Regions from separate parts of the Homo sapiens genome. Here region 2 is linked to region 1. The links come from fine-mapping of genetic effects on gene expression. A gene starts in region 1. The other region holds a variant in brackets. All regions are shown on one strand. Distances are between the middles of the regions. Region 1 holds the start of MAGEC3 (MAGE family member C3). Region 2 has its middle 63 kb from the start of LDOC1.

Region 1 (5,387 bases):
AGCACTGTACCTGGCATAGAATGAGCTCATTATAATATCAGTCTCCTTATTCTTTCCCTTGTCTAACCATCAGTGGTGAGAAACAGCTGTTGATTTGCCAAAATATATGCATAATTTTATAAATGAAAACATCCAAAATCTCTTTGGGTGGCCTATTAAGGAATGAGCTACAGGGTTTTTCACCTTTATTACTATTGACATTTTGAGACAGATAGTTCTGTGGGCTTTTTTGAGGGGGTGTCATCTTGCTGAATTTAGAATGATTAGCAGCATTCCTAGTTTCTATTCAATAGATGCCGATAGCACCAAGAGCCATCCCAGTTGTGACAACCAAAAATATTTCCAGACTGCAAAATGTCTTCTTGGGATGGGGTGCAAAATCACCCCCAATCTGAGCACTACTGAGCTAGAGGAATGAAAAGGACATTGTGTTGGAAGAGGGTAGGGACTTAAGCTTTGAAATGTTGTTCATAGCTTGGAAGAGGCCCACCTTAGCCGTTTCTGCCATTGGGTGAACTAGGCTTTTTGTGCCTAGGTGTTAGTGAATGGATGTCAGAGCAGAAGGTAGGAGACAGGAGAAGAGTCTTCTCTATTTAGAGGGAATGGAAAAGATGCAGGGCAGTGTCAGAAGGTTTCAGATCTCTCATGAGCAAATGCAAAACTTCTGTGTTCTCAAGACCGGAAACACATTTCTCAGCCAAGGGAAGAGGCTAATTGAGAGGAGTGATCGTGGCTCTTCTTCATTTTCTTAGTAAGCTCCTGAAGGTGGCAAGACCGCAGAAAAGCAATGCATTTAATACCTCAGGGACTTGTTAGTGCCTGAAATTGAACATGGAGGCATTGGGATGATTTCATTGTGCCTCAGAAGTTATTAAACTGAGTCAGGCAAGTCTGCACTCTGGCTCCCCATGTGCAGGTGCAAGCAGTGGCCCCAGTGGGGATCCGAGGGCAGTTCCCTGGCTGGTGGGGTAATGTTCCAGGCAGGAACACAGCTGCCTCTGCTGCACAAAAAATCTGCCTGAAAAGTGGGAGGCAGCAGGTTGTAATAAGCCCCACTCAGCTCCCACACACTTGGCAAGTCAGTTTTCATACCCACAGTGTTCTGCTAGCAGCAGCAGCTAACTGGGTTTCAAGTGGCCCGTGCTCAGAATTTAAAACCATCCCAGGCCATAAGCTTTCCCTATGGACACAGAAACCATATCTTTCAGGCTGCATCCTTTCCAGTCCACCTGTGAAGCAGGGCCATGCAGCTCATGTGCCTTGTTGCCGTAGCACACTTCTCACTTGCCCCTCGGTTCTGGCCAATCAGCTTTGTCCTTACTAAGGATTATATCACAAATCCCAGTTGGGCTCTTCTCTCAAACTGTGACTGCAGCCTGAGTTAGACTTCTGCAACGTCCCGTGAGGTGGGATCAGGAATGGCTTCCCTCCATTCTTGCTGGAATCTGGGTCTGCACACAAAGCATGTCCCGATGCTGCTCCTTCTTATATATTCCTTACTTTTCACTGAATCACCTCTAGAGCTGAGTAGGTTTGAAGTCCTCCCTCATGACTTGTATTGCCTGGCTCGCCTGTGGGAGTATATGTCATGACAGCAATCTATCCCTCTCTCATGCTCTGGGGACTAATGGTTTTCCATCTGTTTTATGATGTAGTCTGTTGCCTGCCACTTCATTCAAAGGGTCTGTGGTTTCTTTCAGTTTTTCTGTTAAGTTCTTACATTGTTTCTTCGAATAAATTTTACAGCATGAATCTCTACATGCCATTTTGTCTTACCAAGTGGGATAAGTATGCTTATAATGCTTCCAATCTGCCATCTTGGAAAAAAAGAAAAAAAAAACTTTAAATATTTTGTCTGTAATGTGCTATGGAAGAGACCTTTTCACATTGTATCTGTTTAGGAATTGATGGGCCTCCTGTATCTCAATGTCTAAGTGTCTTGCTCGACTTAGGAAGTGTCATCTATTATTTCAATAAATAGGTCTTTGAAAACATGTTTTCTCTCTTTGCCTTCTGGGCTATCAGTGATTTTTATATTTGGTCACTTTATGTTGTTAGATAGATTCCAAAGGTTTATTTTATTATTTTCTTTTTTTCTTTATTTTTGTCTGACAGCGTTATTTCAAAAAAAACTGTCTTCAAGCAAAATGTGATCTTAACATAAGTCAGTTATGATTGAGTATATTGTTGAAGCTTTCATGTGTATTTTTTAGTTTATTCACTGCATTCTTTGGCTCCAGAATTTCTGTTCGTTCCTTTTTTATGGTCTCTATCTCTTTGGTAAAGACAGGGTGGCAGTGGCCATGCTGCTGCCCTGCCACTGGGTGTTGGATGCCACCTTCAGTGATGGCAGTCTAGGCCAGTGGGTGAAAAACACATGTGCCACATATGCCTTATCCCCAGTGGTGCTCCCACCTCAGCCCCAGGTGTGGTAGCCCATGAATGCTCATGTCTAAGCCCCAGGTTAACAGCCAGCTCTTCTTTTGCATCTCAGCCTCAGTGTTGCTTGGCTCCAAGACAGTGTGCAGTCTGTTGGGGGTGAGGCTCTAAGATGCTATCTTGCCCAGCCTTGATGTTCATGTCTTTCCCTTGGTTGCAGTAGCCTGTGGTCGCTCATGTCTGAATCTCCAGGGAAACATCAGACATTTAGTTTGCACCTAGGCCTCAATGCCACTGGGCTCCAGGACAGTATGTAGTTCATCGGGGGTGAGGCTCTGCAGTGGTGCCTCATTTGTGCCTCAGTCCTAAAAGCAGCAGCCCACGCCTTCGTCCCACCTCTGCACCAGATGCTGTAGTCTGTAGTCACTGATGCCTATGTCCCTGGGGCAGCAGTTCGTGCTTCTCTTGCACCTCAGCCCTGGGCTACTGGGCTCCAGGACAGTGCTCAGTCTGTTGAGGGCAGGGCTCTAAAATGGTACTTTGTTGTAGCTGCTTAAGTCTCAAGAAGTGTGAGGGACCCAGCGGGAGCTTTCTCCCTGAAGCAGTGCCATCATACAATCTCCTGGCAGCTTTCTATGTTAGTTTCGGGGCCCATGATGGTTGAAGGGATCTCCTGTGGCTGGGATTATAGGAGTCTATAGTGAGAATGTAAACTACTGAGGCTCTCTCACCTATCCTTTCTCTGTATTTGGAGTCTCTCAGCTCACAGCTGATCCTGGATGAGCAGGCTGCCTTGATTCCCTCTCCATCTCTGCTTTAAGTATTGCCTATCACTTTTCTAATGGATTCCAGTGATTTCCTTTGAATTATATATTCAAAGTGTGATTATCGACTCACCGTTTGGTTATTTTTAATGGAGAAAGTGAGTACAAAATGCCTCTAGTCTGCCATATTCATGGTTTCCAAGAAATAATTTTTAAAGGTTTTTAAATATTTTATGTAATTATAATGATTATGGGCATAAGAAGGATTATGGAGAAGAACGGAGCAAAATAAAAGCTTCATTCACTCTGCTGTCATATTTGATTATATCTTGAGGTCAAATTGATCTTTGCTATTGTCTTGGCTGCCGGCTCTGGCTACAGCTAATCCTGGGCAGGCTTTGCAGCTCCTACCACTTCCAGGCCCACAGCTGCAATCCCAAGCTTGCTCACCAAAACAAGTGTTTATTCATTATATCTTCAGTAGATTTTATTTTATAAATATGAATTGTTTATATGCATTTCTAATATGTCAAATGCTTTACTAGCTTTTTAATATCTTTATATCCATTTTCCCTGGATCATTACTTACTGTTCTTAACTCAGTGGTTCTTAACTGGAAGAGATTTTGCCACTTAGGGGATACTTGCCAATATCTAGAAATATTGTTGGTTGTCATAATTGGTGGCAGCAGGGAATGCTACTGGTATTTAATAAGCAGAGACAGAGATGCTTCTAAGCGTCTTATTGGACAAAGGACGACCTCACACAAGAAAGAATTATACTGCCTAAAATGTGATGGTGCTGACAGTGAGAAACCCTGAGTTTAACATAATTTGCTCAGAACTCTAAAAATGATTCACTTTCCAAAAATTTGCTGCATTTTTTCTTCTGGTCAGAATGTGCACAATGGAAATTCTTCCTGAAGGATTTGTGTGAGGAGACCTATTCTATAGCTGTTAAATGATTGGCAGGGAGGTTGATAGATGGAGGTGAAGTCAGCCAAAACTTAACTGATATTTAACAGCCAGGAAATACCCAACCTGGAAAGTATTCATTCATAGCATCACAAACCACTAAAGAAAAGTGATATTTTACCTCTGAGAAAGTTAACAGCAAAAGTATAGTCTTTCTAATTAGTTTTTAGCTTGCAATCTAAATAAATGACAAGTAGAGAATATCAGGTCATAAAATATCATTTAATTTTAAGAAATATTTTCATAAGAATATTGACATAAAAGTGATTTAAGAAAGTGAAAGTTACATTTAGCACAAGATTTTGCATTTTTCAAAAGTATATGATATTGGAAAAACATATAATTACATATTATTTTGAATTTGTTCTATGTAGCAAACTTTGTTCAGACCTCTTTAAGAACATTTCATAAATTTGGCATCATTACTAACATCTCCATGTTAAGAAGATTTTCACAGAAGCAATATTTTCTTGTGTCTCTAAATGGGAGAGAGTGCCTCTCCTCACTAAATTGCCATATTAAAGTGGACTGTTCAGCATTTATTTTCTTCAACCATTCTGTCTAAAATTCAGCCTGATGTATTAGCATTAGCATGAGTCCTCCTGCAAAATTGGTCAGTGGGTAGTTATGCTTTTGTGTGTTTTTCACATCAAAAAAAAAAACCCCACAAGAACAAAAACAAAACAAACACAAAAATGCTCAGTAAATAGTTAATGAATAAATTGTTCTATTCAAGGGGATTGAGAATGGACCTTGCTCCACTGCTTCTTTTTTTTTCTGTATTTTCAACATCTGCCTTTCTACTGGCTAATTAACTATAGTTTATAAATATGTTTAATATTAAATAAAAATTTAAGTAAGAGGAAGCATCAGGAACCACTTTAAAGGTGAATTGTAAAAAATAATGTGATAATAACTTCACTCTGCTTTTCCTTCTCACTTCTTTTCTTCTTTCTTCTTTTCTTTCCACTTAAGCCTCACAAGAGTGAAGCTTCTTGTCTGTCTCTTCTTACTTACCAGTCACTCTTTCTTCAACCTGGTGCTCTCTGACTCCTGTCTCTACCACTCAAATAAAGCTGTACTTTGCAAGACCATCAAAGCCATTTTAATTATCAAATCCAAAGACTCCTTTTGGATATTTCAGGTCTCCAAACAAATTGCATCTTCTTAAAGAGGAATTTCCTGACCACCTGAGTTAAATCTCATGACATTCGCAAACATATTGCCGTATTTTACATTCTTGATAGTCCCTAGTACTTGATCAAAAAGC
Region 2 (5,387 bases), 720 kb before region 1:
GACTTGTAATTGGTAAAAGAAAAAAACCCAGCAACTTATATTATTCAGAATAGTGAGATAACTGGTCATTCTTGTGACTTGCACAATGTCCATGTTCTGTCTGTGTTCAGACATGATTGCAGAGCGGTCTTGTTTTCGCCTTCATCCGTCATGGTCACACAGCGGCCTCATTTAATGCTGATGTTCCTGATAGAGTAATACCAAGGCCTAGCTGTGAGTGCCAAGCCAGCTCCTAGCAACAACTGGGCATAGCTTGTGAATGTCAGAAGCTGTTTTTCTCTTTCTCAAAACCAGTTAAACATTTAGTTCAGTGATTTGTCCTGCAGCTGGTGGATGAGATGGAATTTTCAAAAGCGGAAAAAAATAGAACAAGGTATGTTCTTTCTCAAAAGACATGTTTTCCAGCACTATTTCTATACGGCAAATTATTTCTTATACAAAGTTAAAATATAAAGAAGAGATTAGGAGAAAATACTTGTGATATGTATAACAAACAAATGACTATACAAATTTTTTCTATAAATAAAAAATCAAACAACCCAATAGAAAAATATGGCAACAATTCACAGATTAATAACTACAAATAGATAACAAAAGATATTCAACTTTACTATTCGTAAAGTAAATATAAATTAAAACAAAGAAGCAATTTTCTTCCATTGGATTGACAACAAAAATCATGAGGGAATAGGAAATCCTAATACTGTTAGAACAAAGTACAAGTACTTTGCAGGATATTTTGGCAATTTCTAGCAAACTTTAAAATGCTCATTAAATTTTTAAGAATTTTCCTTTTAGAAATGCTACACATGTGCACGAAAACATATGATTCAAAAATGTTCATTGTAACATTTGTTAAACAGAAAAACTGGTGAAAAACATTTGTACATCAATAGAGAAATACCTACATTTAAAAATGATGTATCCATACTATGAAGTTATATGCAGACAATTAAAATATTGACATAGATATGTATGGCAAATATAGAGGAAAAACAAAGATACAGAATTAGACAAGAAAATTAATTTACAAAAGTACTTAATATCTCATTTATGTCAAAATATTTATGTAGGCCAAACGCAGCAGCTCATGCCTGCAATCCCAACGTTTTGGGAGGCTGAGGCAGGAGGATTGCCTGAGTCCAGGAATTCGAGACCAGCCAGGGCAACACAGTGAGAACTCTTCTCTACAAAAAAAAAAAAAAAAAAAAAAAAAAAAAGAGCCAGGTGTGGTGACTCATGCCTGTAGTCCCAGCTACTCAGGAGGCTGAGGTGGGAGAATTGCTTGAGCCTGGGAGGTTGAGGCTGCAGAGAGCTGAGAATATGCCACTGCACTGCAGCCTGGGCGACAGAGCAAGACCCTGTTTAAAAAATATATAATTATGTATTTTTAATATTTGCATATATGTATATGACTATATTATGAATCTTTGTATATATATTTAAATGAATATAAAATTATCTGTAAGTGAGCATACCAATTGCAAGCTGTTTCCTTTGAGGACCAGTAATTCAGTTGAATTTTGGGAGAATAGAGGGTGGAGAGAATGGTAGAAATGCAAGTTTTTCTGTATATACATCTGCACTGCTTGAAATTTTTATAAGAAAATATTATTTTCATAATAAAAAGTTATATAATAATATATTCTTTTTTTTTTTTTTCGAGACGGAGTTTCACTCTTGTTGCCCAGGCTGGAGTGCAATGGCGTGATCTCAGCTCACCACAACCTCTGCCTCCCGAGTTCAAGTGATTCTCCTCCCTCAGCCTCCTGAGTAGCTGGGATTACGGGCATGTGTCACCACGCCCAGCTAATTTTGTATTTTTAGTAGAGACGGGGTTTCTCCATGTTGATCAGGCTGGTCTCGAACTCCTGACCTCAGGCGATCCACCTGCCTTGGCCTCCCAAAGTGCTGGGATTACAGGCATGAGCCACCATGCCCGGCCAATAATGTATTCTCTTAGGAACTGTCTAGCTGAGATGGGGTAACTTGTAATGGAGTTATCTTCCTGGCAGAAACAACTAAAAACACTGGACTATATACATATATATATATATAAATGTTTTTTAAGCGTTAGAAATTAGGTAGTGTGAGAAAATAATTCCTTACAGAGGGAAAACAAAGTGAACCCTTACGATTGTCCTGGCTTACTGTCTGAAAGGAGACTTCAGGCTACATCATAGAAAGGGAGAACTCAGGCCGGCCGCGGTGGCTCACACCTGTAATCCCATAGCATTTTGGGAGGCCAAGGTGGGGGGATCACAAGGTCAGGAGAGCGAGACAATCCTGGCTAACACGGTGAAACCCCGTCTCCCCTAAAAATCCAAAAATTAGCCAGGTGTGGGGGCACACGCCTGTAGTCCCAGCTACTCAGGAGGCTGAGGCAGGAGAATTGCTTGAACCCTGGAGACGGAGGTTGCAGTGAGCTGAGATCTGGCCACTGCACTCCAGCCTGGGCGACAGAGCAAGACTCCATCTCAAAATAAACAAATAAGTAAATAAATAAAATAAAAAGAAACGGAGAACCTAAATGGAATCCAGTGGCCTCCCTAAGTTGAGAAGACAGAGCTAGGAGTCCAAAAAGGGAAATACAGCTACAATTTTCAGGGAAGAATACAAGAGAAAAGAAAGCTGCACAAAAAATAAGATAACTGCAG[C/A]GATTTGTTGAAGGTCCTTCTCAGCTTTAGTTGAGCATGAATCAGTGCATGAATGTGAGGAAACTAACTGAAGCTGGAGAAGCAACTATCTGTAAACAGCAGAAAAAAACAATTCTTAGAGCTCAAACATTTCTTTTTCCCACAAGTCAGAGTGAAAAGCCTTGTATTTCACATGATATTAGGTAGGTTCGTCAGAGGGTATCGCCACAGTAGTGGAAGAAAAATAGTCCTAGATTAATAGCTAGTCTGGTTCTGTCTAATGAAGTTTACAAACAAGCCTTGAAAGAATCAATGTTTTTTTTTTCCAAGTAAATTTAAAGCATCTCAGATTTAAGTGTGAAAATAATATTAGGAGAAGAAAAACACCACCAAAAAGGTAAAATCCACATTGTCTGACATCAAATAAAAAGTTACCAATCACGCATGAAGGAAAGAAAATAAGAGCAGAAAAGCCATTCAATAGAAAGAGACCAGAAAATGGCACCTATAGAATGAGTAGACAAGAACATTAAAACGGCTACAGACGGCTGGGTGCAGTGGCTCATGCCTGTAATCCCAGCACTTTGGGAGGCTGAGGCGGGCAGATCACGAGGTCAGGAGATCGAGACCATCCGGGCTAACACGGTGAAACCCCGTCCCTACTAAAAACACAAAACATTAGCCGGGCGTGGTGGCAGGCGCCTGTAGTCCCAGCTACTCGAGAGGCTGAGGCAGGAGAATCGCTTGAACCCAGGAGGGGGTTTCAGTGAGCCAAGGTAGTGCCACTGCACTCCAGCCTCGGCAACAAAGCAAGACTCCATCTCAAAAAAAAAAAAAAAAAAAGCTACAGGTATTCTAACTATATTATATATGTTCAATAAATAAGAGGAAAGGTTGAACATGTTAAGTAAACATATGAAAGATATAAAACATACCAAAATCAAACTTCTATGGATATAAATTACAGGTCTGAAATGAAAAATAAACTGAATGGGATATATAGCAGATTAGACACTGAGAAGAAAATACCAACACTACAGGTTGAATTTTGTTCCCCCAAATTAATATGTTGAAGTTTCAACCCCCAGTGCTGTAGAATGTCACATTATTTTAATACAAGGTTCTTGTAGAAGTAATGAGCTAAGATGAAGTAATTAGGGCAAGACTTAATCCAATACTACTGGCCTTTTAATAAAAAGGGGAAATTTGGACATAGACCCAGTGAGAATGTCACATAAAAACAAAGGCAGAGATTGGAATGATGCTTCTGAAAGCCAAGAAATGCCAGTGTCCGCCAGAAAATCACTGATTTAGCTAGGCAAGAGACATGGTAGATTCTGAGAGGCCTCCGAAGAAACCGACCCTGTCAACACCTTGATAATAAACTTACAGCCTCCAGAGCTGTGAGCAAATACATGATGTATAAGCCACTCAGTTTGTGGTATTTTATTATGGCCACCTTAGCAAATTAAAGCTACCTGTAACATTGAAAACATTAGAAGAGTAATTTCCACATTAAATGCAAAGAGGAAACATTATTTCAAAACAAAGCTAGAATACCTGTATAATATGATCCGGTAGCTTTCAGAGGCAAGAATATCACATGCAAAATGAGGGACACTGTAAACTGATAAAGGGAGAATTGACCAAGGAAATATAAGAATTTAAATATTTAATATTTAGGTATCCAAAATAACACTGCTTCAAAGTCAACATTGAATAAAATAGCAAAACTTAAAGGAGAAATGGGCAAATTCACAATTATAGTCAAATATGCCAACATTCTTCTTTTAATAAATGATAAAAGATGCAGACAAAAAATCAGTAAAATATACAGACTTGAAAAACAATATCAAACAACTTGACTTAACTGACTTTGGTAGAACACATGACACAACAACAGTAGAATACACAGTGTTTTCAAGCACACACAGAACATTTACCAAGATAAACCAGATAGAGGATCATTAAACAAGTCGAATAAATGTAAAATGATTGAAGCCATACAAAGTACATTCTCTGACCACAATGAAATTGAACTAGGAATTAATATCAGAAAAAAATGTCTAAGAAGTTCCCAAGTAATTTAATACTAAATAGCATAGTTCTGGAGAGGATATGGATCAAGGAAAGAATAAGATACAATTAGAAAATATTTTGAACTAAATGAGAATGAAAAGACAAACTACCAAAATTTGTGGGACCCAGATTTAAAAATATTTGGAGGTAAATTCATAGCACTAAAATTTCTACATCATAAAAGATTGGTCTCGGCCGGGTGTATTGGCTCACACCTGTAATCCCATCACTTTGGGAGGCCAAGGCCAGTGGATCACTTGAGGTCAGCATTTCGAGACCAGCCTAGCCAACATGGTGAAACCCCATCCCTACTAAAAATACAAAAATTAGCCAGGCATGGTGGTGCACGCCTGTAATCCCAGCTACTCGGGAGGCTGGGGCAAGAGAATCGCTTGAATCTAGGAGGCAGAGGTTGCAGTGAATGGAGATCGTGCCACTGCACTCCAGCCTGGGCAACAGAGTGAGACAAAAAAGACTGGTCTCATAACAATGGCCTTAGCTTCTATATTTAGAAAATAAGACAAAAGAGCAAATTAAATCCAAAATAAACAGAATAAAGAAAATAATAAAACTGAAGCAAAAATGAATGAAATAGAAAACAAAAATATACTAAGGAAAATCAATGTAATGAAAAGGTAGTTCATTGAAATGATTAATATAACTGATAAACCT

Evidence for each region. PIP is the estimated chance that this variant, and not a neighbour inherited with it, causes the effect. A credible set is the group of variants that fine-mapping cannot tell apart.
Region 2: its variant is the best candidate, but not a certain one, in a credible set for the expression of MAGEC3 in cerebellum (GTEx, PIP 0.58).

Annotation. Positions count from the first base shown.
Region 1 is chrX:141,836,013-141,841,399 of GRCh38, forward strand. MAGEC3 (MAGE family member C3) reads left to right here and starts at 2,304. Exons shown (of 8, transcript NM_138702.1): 1 at 2,304-2,426. The coding sequence starts at 2,304.
Region 2 is chrX:141,111,227-141,116,613 of GRCh38, forward strand. No RefSeq gene overlaps it. Among named protein-coding and RNA genes, the nearest start is that of LDOC1, 63 kb to the right of the region's middle. The variant C/A (reference allele first, on the strand shown) is at 2,658.